2 linked regions of the Homo sapiens genome follow. The protein of the gene in region 1 interacts with the protein of each later gene in a biochemical or structural test. Each region holds a gene or a part of one and is shown in the gene's direction. Other genes may lie near its edges.

Region 1 (4,024 bases):
TTTTTTTTAATCTGTGATAAATCCTTTTGTGAAATGGGAATTTACCTGTTACCTAATTTACCTGTGGTGATAACCTGTATTTTATCAGTTTTCTTAAAGGAAAATACATATCCTAAAATTGATGGCCAAAGTCATGATTAGCAGCAGCTATGTGACACCACCAAGAAAGAGGAGATGTCATTGTATAAAGCTAAAACATTTAATTAGGGTCTTTTCTCTTTTTAGGTATGATTTTAATTGGTATAGATGAAGAGCAAGGCCCTCAGGTATATAAGTGTGATCCTGCAGGTTACTACTGTGGGTTTAAAGCCACTGCAGCGGGAGTTAAACAAACTGAGTCAACCAGCTTCCTTGAAAAAAAAGTGAAGAAGAAATTTGATTGGACATTTGAACAGACAGTGGAAGTAAGTCAACCAAAAGGAGCTGACTTTTTTTATGCTATATAGAACAGTGAGGATCTTTGTATAATTTCTATACAAAGCTATTCCTGAATTACATCCCAGGATTCAAGTTGTCAACTTAATAATGAAATTGATATCATACAGCTGACATAGGAAAATTTGAGTTGCTTTTATTCACTTAATTCCTTATTTCGTAATGTATTTGAGGTGGCTTTCAACAAAACGCATATAATAGGAAAATATAAATAAAAATAGGAACCAGCTGGGCATGGTGGCACACACCTGTAGTCCCAGCTACTTGAGAGGCTGAAGCTGGAGGACTGCTTGAGTCTAGGTGTTCGAGGCCAGTCCTATTTACTGCCAAGAAATTAAAAACAAAAATTTTAGTAGATTTTGGGTGTAAGTCTGGAATTAAAGCCATTCTGAAGATGCTAACAACATGCTTCTGATAAGTGACCAAAAAAAAATTACCATCTAATGCTTTTACGTTTGGTTTGGAAGTATGCTTAAAGGAGATAAAAAGCTAGTTCATGTTCAGGAAGTACTGGGCCCTGTCTAAATATTTCTTAAAGGTTTCTTTTATTGCAATTCATAATTAATTACATAAATAACCACATCCGGTAAAAAAACACTTAAGGTGGCTCACACCTGTAATCCCAGCACTTTGGGAGGCAGACAGATCACCTGAGGTCAGGAGTTTGAGACCATCCTGGCCAACATGGCGAAACCCTGTCTCTATGAAAAATACAAAAATTAGCCGGGCATGGTGGCAGGCGCCTGTAATTCCAGCTACTCAGGAGACTGAGTCAGGAGACTCGCTTGAATCCACGAGCCTGAGGTTGCAGTGAGCCAGGCTGGCGCCACTGCACTCCAGACTGAGCGACAGAGTGAGACTCTGCCTCAAAAAACAGAAACAAAACAAACAAACAACACTTAAAACATTCTTAAATCGTTTTTACTGTAAATTCCTTGAAGATGCAGAGAGTATCATTCATCTTTATCCTTTTCCCATTTCACCCCAAGTGCTAAGTGAAGTGTAGTGCCTGGGTCATGAAGCCAATAAACCTTTTTGTATAAATCATCCTATTTTAATTAATGGACCCCTTTATTATTTGACTTGGTAGAAAAAAATTTCTCATCATTGGGAGGCAATACATTAGAGTTAAGCAGTCTGTTAGTAACATTGAACTACCTCATTGAAACATGGAGCTCCTGATTGACTCATGATTTGAATAAGCTAGGAATGAGAAAACCTTGGAATCTCTAAAAAATACTATATTTTAACATTAAATACTTTTTTTCAGACTGCAATTACATGCCTGTCTACTGTTCTATCAATTGATTTCAAACCTTCAGAAATAGAAGTTGGAGTAGTGACAGTTGAAAATCCTAAATTCAGGTGAGTGATATTGTGGGCCACATGCAGACTAGAAAGGTGGAGGCGTGTGAGTCCATGTGTCCTATAACTTGTGGGGGAAATCTTTTTTCTTTAACTGTCATTATAGTTTTTGTTTGTGTGTTTGTTTTTTTCCCCAGCACCTGAGATCTGTTTTTAAAACTTTGGACTCTATTTAAGAGTCAGATATGAAAGCTTTTCTCCTTATTTCAGAGTGATTTTATATCTAACACCAGAGATGACATAAAGTTACCTTCCTTATGTAAGGAAAAAAATTAGCATAAGTGTTTTCTTTTTTTTAGTTTAAGGCCAATACAAATTCAATTCCCAAAGTAGTAGTTTGCAAGTTTTTCAGATAGAACTTTGGTTATTTAGTGGTTATTTAAGTAGAACTTTGAGGAGCAATATGAGTTACTGATATATGTCAGACCCTTATCTAGAGATCTTTGGAAAGCCCAAATTTTGAATACAGCTAATTGACTTGCAGTTGCTGGATGTGTGTGTGTGTGTGTGTGTGTGTGTGTGTGTGTGTTCTTACTCACTAAGTGACTAACTCCCACACATCAGCCTTATAGCTTCCATGATTCAAATCCATACTGAGTGCTTCGTATAATCAGCTCATTTAATCCTCCCAGCAGCCCTGTGAGGCAGTTGATATACCATGGACCAGGATGCTCTTATCTTTAATGAAAATACTGCAGTTAAATCGACAGATACAAGGAACTACTGGGAGGCATTTTAACTATTATGTGTATCTATTCTTAGATCACAACCATAAAGACACATGGTCTTGGTTGTGGTGTGGGGTACGGGAGTGGTAAACTAAGCTTAACTAGACCTTGAAGAGGTTTTTCGTTTGTTCTTTTTTTTCCTAATTTGTTCTTTTGGTTGCCCACAGATAAGTCATATAAACATGACAGATTCAGAAAAATTCATAGGACTTTAAAAAAAAAAAAACAGCTGGGTGCTGTGGCATGCATCTGTAGTCTCAGCTCCTCAGGAGGCTGAGGCAAGAGGATGGCTTGAGCCTTGGAGTTGAAAGCTGTAGTGCGCAATGATAGTGCCTGTGAATAGCCACTGCACTCTAGCCTGGGTAACATAGTGAGACCTCATCTGTTAAAAAAACAACCGACAACACCAAAAGCGAATCTATCCTAGCTTTTCTTCCCGTAGGAAGAAGTCTTGTAACTTGGGTTGGGGTAGGGGTGAGGGGTGGGGGCAGGGATCAAGTTGCTTTTGAAAAAGGTGCCTTTTTTTTTTTTAAGTAAAAATTTCAGCAAGAATAATCTTAAAATCTCTCTAAGGAACCTACAATTAGTTCTTGTTTTCTTTTCTGTTTGGAGACCTTCCTGCCACCTTTAAAATTGTATTTGTTATTTTTTAAATTGGTAAGGAATCAAAAATCTTGTCTTCAAAAAACTTTGTATCATTTATAAATTCTGTGATAGTAAATATATGTAAATAATTACAGTACATAGCATAAGCATCAACAACTATTTAAACTGCTTGATATTGCCTTCAGTTGCACTAAAAAATGTCCTTTTGACAAATTTCACTTTTTAGAAGTCTAGTAGTAATAGGTCACATTAACAAGGTTGCCAAACAATTGCTTCCTTTCGAGGCAAACATCATTTAGAAAATACATGTTCAGGGCCACACATGGTGGCTCACACCTGTAATCCCAGCACTTTGGGAGGCCAAAGTGGACAGATCACTTGAGGTCAGGAGTTTGAGACCAGCCTGGCCAACATGGTGAAACCCCATCTCTACTAAAAATACAAAAATTAGCCAGATGTGGTGGTGGACGCCTGTAATCCCAGCTGCTTGGGAGGCTGAGGCAGGAGAATTGCTTGAGCCTGGGAGGCGGAGGTTGCAGTGAGCCAAGATTGTGCCACTGCACTCCAGCCTGGGCGACAGGGTCAGACTCCATCTCAAAAAAAAAAAAAAAAAAGAGAAAGGAAATATATGTTCAACATGGAGCACTCTCTGGCTGGTAGACTATTCATAGAATTATAACTTTATTTTCATGAACTTCTGAATCTGAACACTTTAATATGCTTAAAATTTCTTCATGAATTTTTATCTTTGAGCTGACATAAATTTCAGTTATACTACATATAAATGTATTTTGACGGCTGGGCAAGGTGGCTCACGCCTGTAATCCCAGCACTTTGGGAGGCTGAGGCAGGCGGGTCACGAGGTCAGGAGTTCCAGACCAGCCTGTCCA
Region 2 (4,240 bases), on another chromosome or scaffold:
GGAAGCAATAATTACTTGTTAGAGAAGGTATTGCTGTGCATTTCTGGGGAATTTCACATTTTGTAATTTGCTTTAAAAAAAGTGGACAGGCATATTTACGGGGGTTTCTCGGACTTCTCCATGTTAATATTCGTGTGTATAAATCGCTCCCGTGCTGCTCTCTGGGGGCCCCTCTTTCACAAACACCTGGCCACCCTCACGCCACAATGGCCAGGCAGGAACCTCGACCTCCCCTCGGAGAGGGGGCTCAGGGTCAACCCCGGGGTCTCAGTCTCTACATGTGACGTTTTCCTGTCCCCTCATTTAAAATAACAAGAGGCTGGGCGCAGTGGCTTACGCCTGTAATCCCAGCACTTTGGGAGGCCGAGGCGGGCGATCACGAGGTCAGGAGATGGAGACCATCCTGGCCAACACGGTGAAACCCCGCCTCTACTAAACTACAAAAAATTAGCCGGGTGTGGTGGCGGGCGCCTGTAGTCCCAGCTACTCGGGAGGCTGAGGCAGGAGAATTGCTTGAACCCGGAGGCGAAGGTTGCAGTGAGCTGAGATCTCGCCACTGCACTCCAGCCTGGTGACAGAGCCTGACTCCGTCTCAAAAAATAAGAAAAAAAAATAAAATAAAAATAATAGAGGCCGAAGCGGGAGGTTCACTTGAGCTCAGAAGTTCGAGATCAGCCTGGGCAACACAGTGAGACCTCGTTTCTATTTAAAAAATAAAATAAAACTAAATTTAAAAAAATGCACGCTCATAGTACAAACTTTAGAAATGGAACGAAAAACTAAAATTGAAGGTATTCCCCTCCAACCCAGAGATAACACCTATCGTTTATTAAGCCCTCACTATTGTTAAACTTAGTTTTAAAGGGCACGATCTCATTTCTTAAAGACTTCTATTCCGCAGAATTTCTTTCCAGGCTTTTTTCTTTTTCTTTTTTTGAGACGGAGTCTCGCTCTGTCGCCCAGGCCGGGGTGCAGTGGCGCGATCTCGGCTCACTGAAACCTCTGTCCAGTCTTTTCGAACCCAAGGCCCAACTGCGCTCTATCTCGACTTTCGGCTCCACTCGGATCCCGAAGTGGCGCACGAGATAAAATGTTGTCAGGCTGAGGTAATTCTCTGTTAGTCCCGGTAAAAATTCGTCAGTCTGGAAAGCTCTCGGTTTGGAATTAAATTCTGTCACTCCGGATGGAAATAAGTCCGCTTAAGGGGGGAAAATCCGTTTGTGGAGGACACGCTCCCGCACGTAACCCCCCGCGGAAAATGACCCCAAGTACCTTTGGCCAGGGATTGCCGCTGCCACGCCGGACTCCATAGCCACGGTCCTGAAACGCCCCGCCGGGCAGGCCGGACCAATGGACGCCGAGCTCGGCCGTGCGTCACGCGACGCTGGCCAATCGCGGAGGGCCACGACCGTAGAAAGGCCGGGCGCGGCGAGGCTGGGCGCTGGGCGGCTGCGGCGCGCGGTGCGCGGTGCGTAGTCTGGAGCTATGGTGGTGGTGGCAGCCGCGCCGAACCCGGCCGACGGGACCCCTAAAGTTCTGCTTCTGTCGGGGCAGCCCGCCTCCGCCGCCGGAGCCCCGGCCGGCCAGGCCCTGCCGCTCATGGTGCCAGCCCAGAGAGGGGCCAGCCCGGAGGCAGCGAGCGGGGGGCTGCCCCAGGCGCGCAAGCGACAGCGCCTCACGCACCTGAGCCCCGAGGAGAAGGCGCTGAGGAGGTGGGCGAGGGGCCGGGGTCTGGGGCCAGATCTGAAGCCGGGACTAGGGACAGGGGCAGGGGCAGGGGCTGGGAGCGGGGACCCAGCACTGGCCGCCCCGCAGGGCTCCGTCGCCTTTGGCCTGGCGGGTCGGTGCCAGCGTGGCGCGGGGCGGGGCAGGAAGCCCGGACTGACCGGATCCGCCACGCTGGGAACCTAGGGCGGCCCAGGGCTCTTTTCTGTACTTTTTAACTCTCTCGTTAGAGATGACCAGAGCTGGGGATGCGGGCACCTGTCTTCCAGGCCCTCTTGCTGTGTGGCCGCAGACTGGTGGTTCAGCCTCTTAACTCGGACATGAGGTCGAATAATCTGTTTTGGTTTACTGCTATTTCTGGAGAGGCGCGGAGCTGAAATAACAGAGCTGTTGAAAGGGCTGGGAATTCTGCGAGGCTCACTGGTCTAGCTCAGTATCTGCGTTCTTAAAATGGAACCTACTTCATGAGGTCTTTGGGGAGATTGAGACTTGGATATAATGTGCCTAGCACTTAGTCCTCCGTAAATGTTCACTCTTTTGTGATCATTGTGCCTTCTGTGATTTATGAAGTGTCTCTTCTGAGTTAATTCTTTTAAAAAAAAAAGTGTCTCCTCCAACAGACACGGACCCATCAGCAGGTCACTGCCTAGGATCTCAACACTAGAGATCAGGGAGTGGCATCAGCCTCTCCCTTTTCTAAATTGGACTGGGGGACGGAGGGTTGATGTCATAGCAAGATTGCAGCCTTCACTAGATTAATGAGGCCAGGTTGGATCCTGTTTAAGAGAACTGGAGACAGGAAGCAGCGGGGGAATAGATGGGGAAAGAGGAAAGTTCCTTATGATGCAAGATGAATAGTGTGTGTGTCCAGCCCCAGTGCTGTGACGGGGATGAGTCTGAGGTGGACGGATGATGCAATATAGGAGAGAATAAAGCAGGTCTTCGAGCTAGATTGACAGAAGACTGTATTTTTTATTTTGTTTTATTGAGGGGAGGAGCCTGAAGTGTATTTTATCATTAGTCTGTCTTATACTGTAAATAAAAATGAAAGCACCAGCTGGTAAAGTTTTCAAATAAAGACATAAATAAGGTTTGATATGACTCAGTGTGGTATGTTCCTTCTCTTCCTAGGAAACTGAAAAACAGAGTAGCAGCTCAGACTGCCAGAGATCGAAAGAAGGCTCGAATGAGTGAGCTGGAACAGCAAGTGGTAGATTTAGAAGAAGAGGTAAAACTACTTAAGGTCAAACTCTTTTATCCATTGTATACCCTTCCTTGGTGAATGTTCTGATATTTGCTTCCCATCCCAAGTTGTTTCAGCCCCTATTAGAATACAATTGAATATATGATTAAAAGTTAAACTAGGCTGGGCATGGTGGCTCATGCCTGTAATCCCAGCACTTTGGGAGCCTGAGTTGGGCAGATCACTTGAAGCCAGCAGTTTGAGACCAGCCTAGCCAACATGGTAAAATCCCGTCTCTACCCAAAAATATACCAAAAAAAAAAAAAAAAAAAAGGCCAAGCGTGAGTGCCTGTAGTCCCAGCTACTCGGGAGGTTGAGGTGGGAGGATTGTTTGAACCTGGGAGAGGGAGGTTGCAGTGAGCTGAGATCGCACCACTGCACTCCAGCCTGGGCAACAGAGTGAGACTCTGTCTCAAGAAAAAAAAAAAAAGTTTGCTGGGCACCGGGGCTCACACCTGTAATCCCAGCACTTTGGGAGGCCAAGGTGGGTAGATAACTTGAGATCAGGAGTTCGAGACCAGCCTGACCAACGTGGTGAAACCCCATCTCTATTAAAAATACAAAAATTAGCCGGGTGTCGTGGCAGGCACCTGTAATCCCAGCTGCTCCGGAGGCTGACGCAGGAGAATCACTTGAACCCAGGAGGCGGAGGTTGCAGTGAGCTGAGATCACGAGATCATGCCACTGCACTCCAGTCTGGGCGACAGAGCAAAAACCCTGTCTCAAAAAAAAAAAAAAAGTTAATCTAAGTTAGGACAGAGAGTTGGTGAAGTGGTGAAGCTTGTTGAGGGCAGAAGTGATTGACTTTGTGGCATTTGGTGCTAGATGTATCTCAAAGTAGATGGATTTAACAATGTTTATTGAGTTTGTAGTAAGAAATTAGCAAGGGCTAATAGGAAATAATTGCTTAAACTTTACATTCTTCCTGGCATGGCCAGAAATTCACTAAAGGTTCCTTTCCCCCTCTAGGGTCCACCTGTTAATCAATCTTAAATTGTTGCCAATTACACATCTTGAATACATAGAGATTATTTATATTGTTTTTTTAACCCCTTGGTCAATTTGCATATATTGAGCTTTTTAAAGTTTTAATCATTAGTTGGTTCTTCTAAGAATCATGAGTCAGGAGCAGGGATTTTTTTTAACTTATTTTGGATTTATAGTCACCACTACCACTTTTATTATTACCTGCCAGTTCAAGATAGTTATTTATTTTTATTTTATATTATTATTATTATTATTATCATCATCATTATTTTGAGATGGAGTCTC

The links.
Region 2: the proteins of PSMA6 (region 1) and XBP1 form a complex in vitro, tested with the Homo sapiens proteins (one study listed by IntAct).

What each region holds. Positions count from the first base shown.
Region 1 is NC_000014.9:35,312,656-35,316,679, forward strand, and holds part of PSMA6 (proteasome subunit alpha type-6), read left to right. Parts: intron 1-225; coding exon 226-404; intron 405-1,705; coding exon 1,706-1,800; intron 1,801-4,024. UniProt on the Homo sapiens protein: Component of the 20S core proteasome complex involved in the proteolytic degradation of most intracellular proteins. This complex plays numerous essential roles within the cell by associating with different regulatory particles.
Region 2 is NC_000022.11:28,797,770-28,802,009, reverse strand, and holds the start of XBP1 (X-box-binding protein 1), read left to right. Parts: upstream 1-1,440; 5' UTR 1,441-1,485; coding exon 1,486-1,712; intron 1,713-1,932; exon of another isoform or gene 1,933-1,973; coding exon of another isoform or gene 1,974-2,050; intron 2,051-2,856; coding exon 2,857-2,953; intron 2,954-4,240. UniProt on the Homo sapiens protein: Functions as a transcription factor during endoplasmic reticulum (ER) stress by regulating the unfolded protein response (UPR).